Homo sapiens: one gene and its partner. The protein of the gene in region 1 purifies or fractionates together with the protein of each later gene. This does not show direct contact. Each region holds a gene or a part of one and is shown on either strand. Other genes may lie near its edges.

Region 1 (7,028 bases):
TGTGCTGAATGTGCAGGATTGTTACATAGGTATACATGTGCCATGGTGCTTTGCTGCACCTATCAAACCATCATCTAGGTTTTAAGCCCCGTATGCCTTAATGCATTAGATATTTGAGAAGACCACTTTAAGTGTATCGTTAAATAAATAGAGCTTAACTTGGAATGTCGTCTTCTTGTGGCTGGCACTGAGGCAAAGAAATGTAATCATCTAGGAATTAGACGAATTGCATTTTGAGTTTTGGCAGGATCTGGCAGTAATTTTAAAGATAAGCTTTAAAAAGTTTTGTATTAAGCTCAATATTAGCATTTAATCCATTTATTTGTTAAAATCTAATATTGTATTCTTGTCTTAAACAGTGACTTTGTTTTTGTAGGCTGCATCCCATATCTATCAAAATCAATTTGTTCAAATGATCCTCAATTCACTTATTAACAAGTCAAAATCTTCTATGTTCCAAGTCAGAACTTTGAGAGAACTGTTATGGGGCTATAGGGATCCATTTTTGAGTTTGGTTCCGTACCCTGTTACTACCACAGTTGGTCTGTTTTATCCTGTAAGTACCAAATATGAATGGCAATATTATTACATTTTAATTTAATTAATTCAATGGCATTGGCAAGGCATAATTTTATAATTTAGCTCATTAGTCTTATTGCTGATCTGGAGACATATATCCTAACTTTTTAAAAAGTCCACTTCTCATTATAGCTTCAGCTTTCCTAGTTGGGAAATTCATCTGAATTTAACAATTAAATTTAAACCTGAAGAATAGATTTAATAAGGTTTCTACTCATTTATAAATACACAATTTTTTTTAAATTAGCCGGTAAGCTAGTCTGTAAATCTTTGAGCACTGTTTTTGGCTTTTATTTCCCTATTCACATAATCAAGTTTAATACCATATTTTTATTTGTTTTAAATATACTCCTCATTCCTCCTTTTCTAGACCTCTTACAATTTTAATTTATATTTAAAAGTTAGCCTAATGTTCACATCTCAATACTGATAAGGTAATAGACTTCATTTTAATGGGATTTGTAAATAAGAATTTTTAGTAGTCCATAATGTCATGAAATGGCAGCTTGAAGATTAAGGAAAATGTGAACTTGATGGTGTACTTGATTACCGCTTAATGTTTTGAATTACAAATAGGATAAGCTAACTACTGAATTGGAAGTTGGACTATGACTTCATTTGGCACTATATGTGAATATTATGTTCTCTAGTTCATTGTTTTACTTTTAGATACTGTTAGGATTACAAGGTTATATATCAATTATAAATGAATGTAGAAAGCCATAATGAATCAAATTCATTCTGATTTTAACTCAATACTCATAGCTCTTTCTTTGGCTAATGCTTTAACTTTTGGATGTCTAATTTTTATCATTTTAGTAACCACTTATTATCATTTTAGTAACCACTTATTAATGACTGTAACATTTAGAATACCCCTAGAAATCATTGTTCTTATAGGTTTGTTCAATGTCCCTCACCTCAACATAGTAAGAATAGTGATCAAAATGCCCTCATTGGCTTAATTATGACAGAGTGCTAGAGTTCACATCATGTCAGCTTCTGATATGTATCTTCTTTGTCACAGCATCTAGCACTTATTTCTAGGCACCTTTCACAATTTTTAAGGCCAATAATTTAAAAAAATGTATTGCAGATGTATTTCAAGTCATTTGAGTAACCAGTGATTGAGAAATGTGAAAGTGAGTTATGTATTGTACAACTTTGAAAAAATGACTTGTAGAAGTAACATTTTCCCATACATATATTTCAGTACAACAATACTGCAGATGGAGTTTATAAAGTTTTCAATGGAAAAGATAACATAAGTAAAGTTGCCATAATCGACACATATAAAGGTAAAAGGTAAGTATTCTGGTAAAATGTGCATGTATGTTACTAGGGTACTCTTAAGCAGGAATAGTATTCATTTAACATCTCATAAGACATAGGCATCAACCTATAGAACAGACCTGGTTATAATTCAGCTCTGGAAACTCCTGTTCTGCTAGGTATTAACTCTTTAGTTGTGGTAACTGGTGAGTTCACACCAGTGCATAGCTGCTGACTATCAGCTCCACTTTAAGGTTTGGTTCACCTTTCTGCACAGGTTATGGTTGTGTTACATAAATCCCCAAAGGGACTATTTTTTCATCTCTGCTACTTATCCAGCATTACAGTATAATTATTCTTACAATTAGATAACCATAAATGAAAAGGTAAAAAAAAAAAAAACAACACATCAACTGATTGTGTAGTAGATGGAAACTTTTTTTTTACTTTTTAAATCGAGCATATCGAATTCCATATTCCAGTGGCATGACCTAAATGTGTCTATAAAGATGGAAGCTTAATGAATCCAGGCAACTGCTTTCATGACCTTCCCCCTGCAAATAGTCTTTAATAATTTTCCATATTGATAACTCAGCTTTTTTAACTTTATCAATGCAAAAATAGAATGAATATTTCAAGTGCAGTTCTACAATGTAAATACAAAATGTGAAAATGAAGACTTTGCCAACTTTAAAGTGGTAAAATAACAAATCAGCTTCCTAAGCCATTATTTCCTTTTTTTTTTTCTAGCTCCAGCCTATTCACCTAAAGAATTTATAATTTATCATATATGTAAACTAGGAAGAACCCTAATAAATATCAGAGGAACAAGCTTTCTTCTCCATAAAATTAACAATTGTGTGTTTGACTAGTTTTTTTCTGAAAAAGAATAAAGTGATCAAAACCAAAAGAGATGAAATGTTTTTATTAATATAAAGTAACCCCTACCTCAAACTGAGTCTATCTAATGATTGCTTTTAACAGCTAAATATTACTAGTGGAGTACTTTTTCTTCTAAAGAGTCCACAGTTACATATTTTTATAGAAAAAGTCAGTAGAGGGAAAAAAACACTTCTAAGTATTCACTTAAAAGGAAATCACAGCAATTTTTTATATTGAGAAATAACGAGCATTTCACTCTAATATTACAGAGAGATGTGGAGGGGAGTTGCAAAGCACTCCTAGTTAGAGTAAGAATTTCACATCATTTTAAGATTGTAAGGTTGATTTAACTCATGGCAAGACTGAACATGATTAACCACTTATTTTGTTTAAGCAATGGCTTGTCTTGACATGTCACTGTCAGGAGTGGAAAAAAAGTTTTTCCATCACCAAAAAGTGAGGATGCAGGGAAACTATTACTATTGTTTTTATCACTTCCAGATATATATAGCTTATTTAGACAGCAAAGTATAAGTTAGTAAACTCTTTCCTACTTTAACGCCAGTCCATGGGAGAATTAAAGGGAGGAAGGGGCAAGAATATAAATTAATCATCTACATGTTTTGAATGTTTGCTGATCCAAACATCTGCTTCTTTCCTCTTCCCTGCTTCTCTCTTCTGCCTGCCTTGTACTTAGCTTATATCAGTTACCCACTTAACACTTTCCTTCTATTCATTCTGAACACTTATACTACTGAGTAATTCATGTATCCCATTGGAAAAAAAAAAATTTCCCCTAAGTAGAGATCTAAGTTTCTGATAAATGTTTTTAATTTTTTTCTTATTCCAAGATGTTTCTAATTAACACCTGGCAGTTTTTATTTTATGATCTGGCTACCTAATGGCATCAGGTACATTGCAATAAGATAAAAGGTTCAAACAAAACATAAACAGAATTGAACATTTCTTAAACTTAGTACTTGTCACATTTAAATGCATCATATTAACAGAAGTATTGAATTATAATAGAAAAAGTAATGTAAGAAAGGTATTCTTTAAATAAGAATGTTTATTCATTGTCTTTTTCTATTCCTAGGAATCTGTCCTATTGGGAAAGTCACTGCGACATGATTAATGGTACAGGTAAGAATATTTGTTTTGTGGTCATCACAGTTAATCCACCTCCCTTTCCCACAAATCCACCGTTGTACTGACAGTGTTCTGAAAGTTGAGGGTGTGTGTTTACTTGCCTTTATATCCCCACAACAAAATTCAGAGTCACTATTTGTATATAGGCTAAAGGTCTGTTCAATGTGATGGGATTTGTAAAGATTAATCATAAAAAATTAGCCCTTACTGCATGATTCAGAGAAATGTTTGCTTTGTAAAAACTTTACTGCCATCCTGGCAACAGAAGTAAATGGTAAAAAACAAACAACAACACAAAACACTTTAGTTACATTTCAAATATTTTATAAATAGTATACAGATAAGTTAGAATTGAAAGAATTAAAAAAAGCTAATTACAAAATAGAAAACATATCTAAGCAAGGCTTATAGCTGAGATAGAATAAAGTTGCAAGACAGAACCATCCATTTTTGGATAAGGTGGTCAGAATGAGAGAGAAAACAATAACAAAGTCAGATGTCTTCTTAACTGTGAAAAATATATGTAAAAAATGAGCATTCATAAACTTAGATTTAAGGTATGGTTAGATCAGGCTTATTCTCCTTCAGGAAAAGCAAAGTACAGATATGCCTATTAGTTTAAGAATTAAGATTTTTAAAAAGCAATGGGAGGCTGGTCACAGTGGCTCATGTCTATAATCCCAGCACTTTGGGAGACCAAGGCAGGTAGACTACTTGTGCCCCGGAGGTTGAGACCAGCCTGGGCAACATAGCAAAATCCCATCTCTACAAAAAAAATACAAATATTAGCTGGGTGTGCTGGCACACGCTTTTAGTTCCGGCTACTTGGGAGGCTGAGGCAGGAGGATCACTTGATTCCAGGAGGTGGAGGCTGCAGTGAGCTATAATTGTGCCTCTGCACTCTAGCCTGGGCAATAGTGTGAGACCCTGTCTCAAAAAAAAAAAAAAAAAAAAAAGTGGTGGGAATCGAATACCATGAAGTAATTAATATCCAGAGGCAAGCTTTCAACTACTAGGAAACAAAAGCATGAAGTTTAGAAAATTAGGGAATATCCCATAGGAAAATGATATAACAAAGATAAAGACACTTAAGTAAAAATGAAGTACAGAGAATGTTTACTTTGCCAAAGGTATGATTATTGACTTCGTATGCGTACTTGATTCTATCATTGCCTTGTAGGAAATGATAAACAAAAAAAGCAAACAAAAAAAACAGCAAAAACACTGTTGGATTTGCAGGGGTTTTCTTTTGTTTTTTTTTTTTTTTTTTTTTGAGACATAGTCTGGCTCTGTTGCCAGGCTGGAGTGCAGTGGTGCGATCTCGGCTCACTGCAACCTCTGCCTCCTGGGGTTCAAGTGATTCTCCTACCTCAATCTCATGAGTAGTTGGGACTACAGGCATGTGCCACCACACCCAGCTAATTTTTGTATTTTTAGTAGAGACGGTTTCACCATGTTGGCCAGGATGGTCTTGATCTCTTGACCTTGTGATCCGCCCCCCTCGGCCTCCCAAAGTGCTGGGATTACAGGCTTGAGCCACCACACCTGGCCAAGGCTTTGCAGGGTTTTGAGCCATAGGAGTGGGCAAATAAGCTATTTTCTAAGTAAAGCATTTCTGGAAATAAATTTTCAAGTCCTCAATACTACCAATGCTAGTAGTTGTATAAGCGGAATACTTAGTCCTTAGATGCAGAGATAAATATACTGTGTTAATCCTAGTAAAGGATTCTTTAAGGAGAAAAATCTTTAAAAAGAAGATTCATTGACAATAATAGAAATGCATGAGCATCAGGCATGATGTTAAAAATATCTATGGGGAAAATAGGGCTGATACAAACTAGGAAAAGAGGGAATTTGGACAGAGCAGGGGATGATCCCTGTGAGAGAGATTCTTGCTTATGGCACTAGCGAAAAGAAAGTAATAAAACAGTAAGGTTCTAATGTGTTTTCATCGTAATTTAGAAGTGCATCCTCTTTACCTTCTTCAGTAAGTTTGAAAAGACTTAAAATGAAAGTATTGGTATACATTTAGAATGTTTCTTTTGGGAGGACAGAAAAAAAGCTCTGCAAATATCAACTATGTTGCAGTCATTGTCCATGGTAGTTGCTGGGTATAATTAGGACATAATCTTCAATGATATTTTAGATAATGATCTTAAAAGCTTTTCAATGCATTTTTCTTTAATTATTAAGGAAATGGAAAAGCAGTTGTTGTCAATGTCCATATGGGGGCTTATATTTTACTTGTCACAAGAGTGTAAACTAATGAAAACAAGGTCACAAGGTTGACACACTTGCCAGAGAAAGAACCTACAATGCATAATCAAAGATGAGACTTACCATTTAAAACTCATTCAATGACGGCTCGTATTAGTGATATTCATGTGAGAAGTACATGGAGGAGTTAACTATTTCTTCATATATCCAATGTTTGCCATGGATCATAGCTGTAGCAAAAAGTAAATTCAATAAATGACTTTTTTATACACTTTCAAAGCATTTGAAGTTCTGTTTAGTGAGAGAACTTTAGTAAATATTTTTAGAAGTAGTAATCAGCCATTAGGACAAATGAGAAAAAAAATCACTACAAATAAATGTGGACATGGCAGGAGATCCAAATGAACTTCACTGGAAGAAAAGTGCCACTCTACTGGTGGGGTAGGGCATTTCAAAAAACAAACACAATGTTAGCCTTAACATTTCATGTTTAAGTTTCTTTTATTTTGTACCATTAAATATGTATAGTATGTAGATTTGTTGTTGACAATAGCAGCCGCCAGCCATATGTAACTGTTAAGGACTCAAAATCTGGCTAGTATGATTTGAAATGTGCTGTAAATATAAAATGCACAGTAGATTTTGAGACTTTAAGAATTTAAAATATTTTATAATGGTTACATGTTAAAATATTTTGGATATTAATAAGTTAAATATAGTTTTGTTTTGTTTGAGACAAAGTTTTCCACTTGTCGCCCAGGCTGGAGTGCAATGGCATGATCTTGGCTCACTGCAGTATCCGCCTCCTGGGTGCAAGCAATTATCCTGCCTCAGGATAGCTGGGATTACGAGCGCCTATCTCAGGATAGCTGAGGCAGGCCTATCCTGCCTCAGGATAGCTGCCTCCCAAGTAGCTGGGATTACAAGCG
Region 2 (7,028 bases), 6.7 Mb from region 1:
TAATCGGCTGTTATTTGCTGTCTGTGTCTCGCTAGTGACACATGTCGCCCTGTGCTTGCATGCCCTGAAGTTTACACCTGTCATTTTTTTCTGGTCTTGATGATTTTCATTCTTTGGGTTATTTAATTCAGCATCTCTCAATTGAGGGAAGTGAACATTCTCCAAGTTGAAAAATAATAATAATTTTATATAATTTAGAGCTTATTTAAAATTTACCTATGAAAGAAGGTAAAAAGGAACAAGTAGGGAGAGAGAGATGTGAAGAAAGTTATGAATATAAAAATGTACTTTTGGCCGGGCCCAGTGGCTCATGTCTGTAACACCAGCACGTTGGGAGGCCAAGGCAGGTGGATTGCTTCAGGGCAGGAGTTCAAGACCAGCCTGGGCAACATGGCAAAGCTCCATTTCTACAAAAAATACAAAAATTAGCCTGGTGTGGTGGTACATGTCTATAATCCCAGCTACTTGGGAGGCTGAGGTGGGAGGATCACTTGAGCCTGGGCTGTCAAGGCTGCAATGAGCCGTGAATTTGCCACTGCACTCTAGCCTGGGCAAGAGAGCGAGGCCCTATCTCAAAAAAAAAAAAAATACATATTTTTGGTAAGAAAGGTTATACAGAAGGGAATACTTTTGTATGAAAAAGTATCTTGTATGGTAAATTTTTGTCCTAAAGTAAAATGACTGATTATTTAGGAAAGAGAGAAGTTTAGAACAAGTCAGAAAGTCCAAGCATGTCATAGACGGTTTGTGTAAGTCATGATAAGATTTGTGAAGGGGAATTCATGAAAGGAATTTTGTATGTGATTAAATTGGTTACAGTGAAAAGAAAATCATTTATAAATAAGTCTTTCTAAATTTTGGTCCCCGATGTTAAAACAAGATTTTTTTATGGTATTAATCTGCTCTTAATAAAATTACAAGAAATTTTACTTTTACTTTTATAAACTGTTTCTTTTAAAAAGTCTCAGAATCATATCCCAGAAGTTCAGCTTTTACTGTGTCTCACTGCTTTTTGCTTTTTTGAGGTCTGAGATAATTCTTTCCTTCAGCTTTCTCATCAACTTTTTTTTTCTCCAGTTCTAATTTTACTGTTGTTATGAGCTAATGCTAAAATATTTTATCTTGAAGGTCTAGAAAAGCAATGTTTACCTCTAGTATAACTTGATTCTGTACTTTTGGCTTTTAAAATACATCTAAATTGTCAATGTAATCAAAAAACTAATGCTGTTCCTAAGAGTGAGGTAATCCTATGCTATAATCATAACCTTGAATATACTCTTCCTAGGTCCAGTTAAATCCAAGCACTTTTTTCATCAGGTTTGATGTCCAGGTTATCTAAATGGGCTTCCCATAAGCAGAAGTAGTCACACTGCAGAATTTTTCTTTGCCTTTTTGGTAACTGTCTTAAGAAACAAGATTGTATAATTCCTATGCTGTCTTTATTAGGTTTTTTTGGTTGCCAAAACTAAGATTTAAAAGGCTTAAGGTTTTTACATCATGTAACCTTCTGTATTGCTTCTAAAGCATTTTCATTATCACTTTGGCTAAATGAGTAACTATTATTTTACAATGACCTCTGCTTCTGTTTTGATCAAATGTTTTCAGCCTTTTAACATGTTTAATAAACAGCCTCAAAATCAAAATCCTAAATTAAGTCTCTGACTTAGTCTTATTGCTGGGATTTATTAAAGTTATAAAAATTAATCACTACAAGACTGTAGAATCTTTTTACAGCTTTTAGTCACACCATGAACTCCATTATCACCATAATATAGTTTGGATGTCCCCTCCAAATCTCATGTTGAAATGTAACGCCCAGTGTTGGAGGTGGGGCCTGGTGGGAGGTGGCTGGATCATGGGAGCAGAGCCCTCAAGAATGGCTTGGGCTGTCCCCTTGGTGACAAGTGAGCCCTCACTCTGATTCACACCAGATCTGGTTGTTTAAAAGTGTGTGGCACCTCTTCCTCACTGTCACTCTCTCTTTCTTGCTCTTGTTGTCACCATGTGAAGTGCCTGCTCCTGCTTCACCTTCTGCCATGATTGTAAGGTTCCTGAGGACTTTCCAGAAGCCGATACCAGCACTATGCTTCCTGTATAGCCTGCAGAACTGTGAGCCAATTAAACTTCTTTTTTGAAAATAAATTACCCAGCCTCAGGTATTTCTTTATATCAATGCAAAAATGGCCTAACACATACCACCTCCACCCTGATAATTATATATACTAGAAAAGAATCAGTTAAAGGGCCAGGCGTAGTGGCTCACACCTGTAATCCCAGCATGTTGGGAACTGGAGGCAGGCGGATCACTTGAGGTCAGGAGTTTGAGACTAGCCTGGCCAACTTGACAAAACCCCATCTCTACTAAAACTACAAAAAGTTAGCTGGGCATGGTGGTGCATGACTGTAATCCCAGCTACTCAGGATGCTAAGTTGGGAGAATTGCTTAAACCCAGGGAGCAGAGGTTGCAGTGAGCTGAGATTGCACCAATGCACTCCAGCCTGGGCAACGGAACGAGACCATGTTTCAAAAAAAAAAGAAAAATAAAAGAAAAAAAATCCGTTAAAGGACTCCCTCTAGTTCCTTAAAAGGGTCCTTATCAAGTGCTATTAACTAATCCTTGTGCCTTACAGTTACAGGGCTTTGACTCCTGAGTACATATAGCTCATCTAAAGAAGGCACTGACTCCTGCCAGTATCTGATAGCAAGCTGAAGCTAATCAAAGCCTTGTCTTTAGACCTGGACAATCAAAGTAAACTATTTTCATGAGACCTACAGACAGAGACATAGGGACAGGCCTGTATTCAAAACATTAAGATTCATTTAATAATTTTGCCTATATCTGAATATAATTTTCTATGCCTTGATATTAAATAATTTAAGTATTTGGCTACGTATGGGCTTCTTTTCATGTCATTCTCATAACTAGGTAGGGCTTATGACATTTTTGTTTAAAACATTAATTCCTTATGTTTTGTTTTCCTCTATAATTTGAAACTATTTAGTCCTTCCAGGCCCAGAGACTACCACATGAGATTGTAAGGGCTTGTTGTGGGGAATAAAATCAATTCAGACCCTCCAAATCAAGGTCAGGCAAACTGCCTCTATAGCTGAACAAAATGTTGTATTTTATATGGCTAATTGCTACAAGTCAAGATTAAAATAGCTTAATGTATAGAATTTATAAATAAGCAAATTTTATAACCGTCCCATTTGGCTTTTGGCTCTTATGTTGCTTAAAAGGGGTTTTAAGGTTAAGGAGTGCCTGCCCACCTCCATTCCCATCTGGCCTAGAAAGTTTAATTGGCCATAAGTCTTTTGTTTAAGTCCCTTGGCCATAGTGGTCCCACCAAGGGACATGATGGATCCAGGGCAGGTAGCACACCACCCTGACATCAATACTGGACAAAATAAGAGCTTGGCCATTGATGGCATACCTTAACAAAAAAAAGGGGAACTATAAACTAAAATAAATAAGTTTTTAAAAGTTCTAAGCCCTTTCCCAACAAAATGGACCCTCTTCTTGGCCAAAGGGCATCCAAAACACCTGAAAACTAATTCAGGCCATGAGGGGAAGCAGGGAGATTGGACATGACTTGCCATATCTTTCCTCTTCTTGGAATTCAGTCACAACTGACTAGCTTAGCATTAAAATAGAAATCATAAGATTGACAAAACAGACTCTTTATGGCAATAAAATACCAAATTATAAATAGAATCTAAGATCACGTAAGGCAAGGGTTAAGTCTCTATTGCAGGGTAAACAGTCATATGTTACATGCACGTTTGTTCAATATTCATGTGTCAGAACCACCTCCATAAATATTCATAACTCTGCTGTTCAACCAGGTGACTTAGTCATATTAAAGACTTGGAAAGAAGGACCTCCTATAGACAACTTTCTCCAAAGTGGAGAGGACCCTATCAAGTGCTTCTAAGTACCTCTAGTGGAGTAAGGGAATACACACTTGGGTACATTCATCCAAAATTAAACCTGCCTCTCATAAAGTCCCACAGGCATTCAACGTGGTGACCACTGTTCCAGCACACTCTTGTGAGCCAATAAAGAATCCTGTGGCTTCTCTTCAAAAAAAGAATCCATCCAGTGGATAAGTACTACTCTCAAAATGAAATTACTAGTTTTAATATTAAACTTGATCTATTATAATATTAGAGCTAATTTGTTTACAGAATGGGCACAAACTACGGCCTCCCTTCTAAACCAGAAAAACTGTTGGGTACGCAGTGAATTACCTCTTTCATCAACCTCAGGCTTACCTTGGCATATCAAATAGGCTAATTTAAGCCATTCCAATTCCAATGAATGGTTTATAAGAGATAAATGCTTTCCTTTCCTTTTCTTTTTTTTTTTTTTTTTTTTTTTTGAGATGGAGTCTCGCTCTGTTGTCCAGGCTGGAATGCAATGGCACAATCGTGGCTCACTGCAAGCTCTGCCTCCCGGGTTCACGCCATTCTCCTGTCTCAGGCTCCTGAGTAGCTGGGACTACAAGGGCCCGCCACCACGCCTGGCTAATTTTTTTGCATTTTTAGTAGAGACGGGGTTTCACCGTGTTAGCCAGGATGGTCTCGATCTCCTGATCCCGTGATCAACCTGCCTCAGTCTCCCAAAGTGCTGGGATTACAGGTGTGAGCTACCACACCTAGCCAATATTTCCTTTTCTAATATATCAAAAAGACACCAGCCACTATCCTTCCCTTCCTCTACTGAAACAAACAAAAAAAACACCTTTTTCAATTATTCTGTAGATAACTAAATAACATCACCACTTTAGGCTATACCATTTTTGATGGGCTTAGTTGATTAATGGCTACCCAAATTCAGGTGACAGGTAAAGTACTCTTATGCCTTGAGAGACATGACACCAGCCACTTCCAGGCTGAAACCTACAACATGGGGTGGTTGCCACCCAACAATGCAATCAGACCCTGGTCTTAACTAATCAAAGTGGACAGAATGGCAAAATAAATCTCTAAGATTGCATGCTCATCCTTCTCCTTGGGGATGGTTATGGGCACATGGGTCTCACAATTGGCTATACCTACCTTACAACTGGACTGGACAATGTACTAGGGGTCAACATTACCTTCTACGACATATTGTTATACATCTAAATTCCTTCCTCACCAACTGAAAAATAGTCAAGGCCCACCATAGTTGATGACAAAACAGGCTTCTTGGTGGTTTTATCCTATGGCCATATTCTCTCTTCAAGCAGCAGCTATAGACATTGAATTACAAATAAAAGCTCTAGCAAAACATACTGGTGCGGCTTTCAATGACACTCATCAGGCTATCACACTTCTGACAGGAGAAACTTCCCAAATAAGACCAGTGGGCTTGCAAAACCATATGGCTTTATACATTCTTTAACTGCAGCCAAGGGAGGAACTTGTGTCTTGAACAAAACTGAATATTATGTTCCTGATTACTGCCATAATATATCCCAGGACATGAGTTCTCTAGAAACTTGTATTTTGGCTATGGATTCCCGGTCTTATGACCCCATAACAGCATAGTTTCATGAGCTTTCCAGCACTTGGAAAGCATTTCTTTTCAGTATGCTTGGTATTATAATATTCATTGTTATTAGTTATTGTGCTTTTATTTCTGTTGTGTTTATTGTATAGGGTTGCAAGATAAAATAGTTTAGCAGCTGTTTCACCTTTCTATTTACTAACCTAGTATATTAACTTTCTAGAAACAATTGGGATATCATGCAAGCAAGGAGCTCCCTTACTCCCTGAAGAGGCTCACTGCACACTATTATGAGAAGACCCTGTCCCAACCATCAACATCTACTGCCTCCAGGAAGGAGTTACAAAAGAACAACCTTCACCCTTTATCTCCCCTTAAGGTTAAGGGTTCTCTCATAAGTAGAGGGGGAAATGTTGGGGAAGCAGGAGCTCAGGAGAGCCAGAGTAACACCATTTTAAATTCAGCTCCATCTTGAGACTAGCAAGGCACGTTCCTTGCCAGTCATGACCCAGTCATAAGATATTTACAGTTGAGGAAACAACCTAAAGATACTTACAATGACACACTCCTACAACAGTAGAAAGTCCAGATGTCTCAATACCCATAACAATATATGTTTTTGAGATGATTAACATAATTCTTTGATGTATTCATGCACTAAAATGTCAAGGATTGTTTTCTTTAAATCAACAGAATAATAAATTTTGTCATGCTGTCTGCTCACCCTCACATAGGCACAGCTTAGTCTTTACATCGATAAGACCCCTATGTAAGAAAAACTTAAAGACAGTCTGCTTGCTTTCTGAGGATGTCCTACTCTATAATGGAGAAGCTTTCAATAAACTGTCTCTTCTCACTGCACTCTGCAACTCACCTTGAATTCCTTCCTGCAAGAGATCCAAGAACTCTAACTCTCTCTTAGAGTCTGGATCGAGACCCCTTCTCCAGCAACAGTATCACAGTTTTCTAAGTTACTAATAATATTAATATATACTAAAAGATTATTAACATACCTGATTCAAGGTATTTTTTTAATGATTCTTCAAGTGAAGGAACAGGCAGTGATGGAAGAGAATCCTGGTACTGAAATGTTCGTTCTTCAGTTGATTTAGCCAATTGATTTTCCATGATAAAATCACAATAGGAAACCTAAAGAAAAGAGAGAGAGCCCTCACAACTTCAATCTCATAGATAGTGTTACGTATCCTAGGTACAATTCACAATTCACTAAACCAGTATTTAGGGACCACAGCATATCTAGGACTTGGTACCAGCTTTTATGAAATTTATAAATCTGTCAGATAGAGAAAACCAACTTAAAAAGAATGTGTAGACACAAAGTGCTAGAAGTAAAGAGTGATCAGTGGGACTGGTATAATTAGTTACCATTTATTGAACACCTAGCATTTGCCAGGTACTCCAGTTTGCATTACAGAAAACATGTGTTAGCTCTCTAACTTTTATGTTATCTCTGAAAGGTGGCATTCTTTGCAATTTTACATATGAATATATCAAAACTCAGAAATTTAGTAA

Evidence for each region.
Region 2: the proteins of CD36 (region 1) and CROT purify together in Homo sapiens (affinity purification with mass spectrometry; 2 studies listed by BioGRID and IntAct, with this or other methods). This does not show direct contact.

Annotation. Positions count from the first base shown.
Region 1 is NC_000007.14:80,662,614-80,669,641, forward strand, and holds part of CD36 (platelet glycoprotein 4), read left to right. Parts: intron 1-359; exon of another isoform or gene 360-376; coding exon 377-556; intron 557-1,792; coding exon 1,793-1,884; intron 1,885-3,829; coding exon 3,830-3,876; intron 3,877-7,028.
Region 2 is NC_000007.14:87,348,664-87,355,691, reverse strand, and holds part of CROT (peroxisomal carnitine O-octanoyltransferase), read right to left. Parts: intron 6,645-7,028; 5' UTR 6,624-6,644; coding exon 6,509-6,623; intron 1-6,508. UniProt on the Homo sapiens protein: Beta-oxidation of fatty acids. The highest activity concerns the C6 to C10 chain length substrate. Converts the end product of pristanic acid beta oxidation, 4,8-dimethylnonanoyl-CoA, to its corresponding carnitine ester.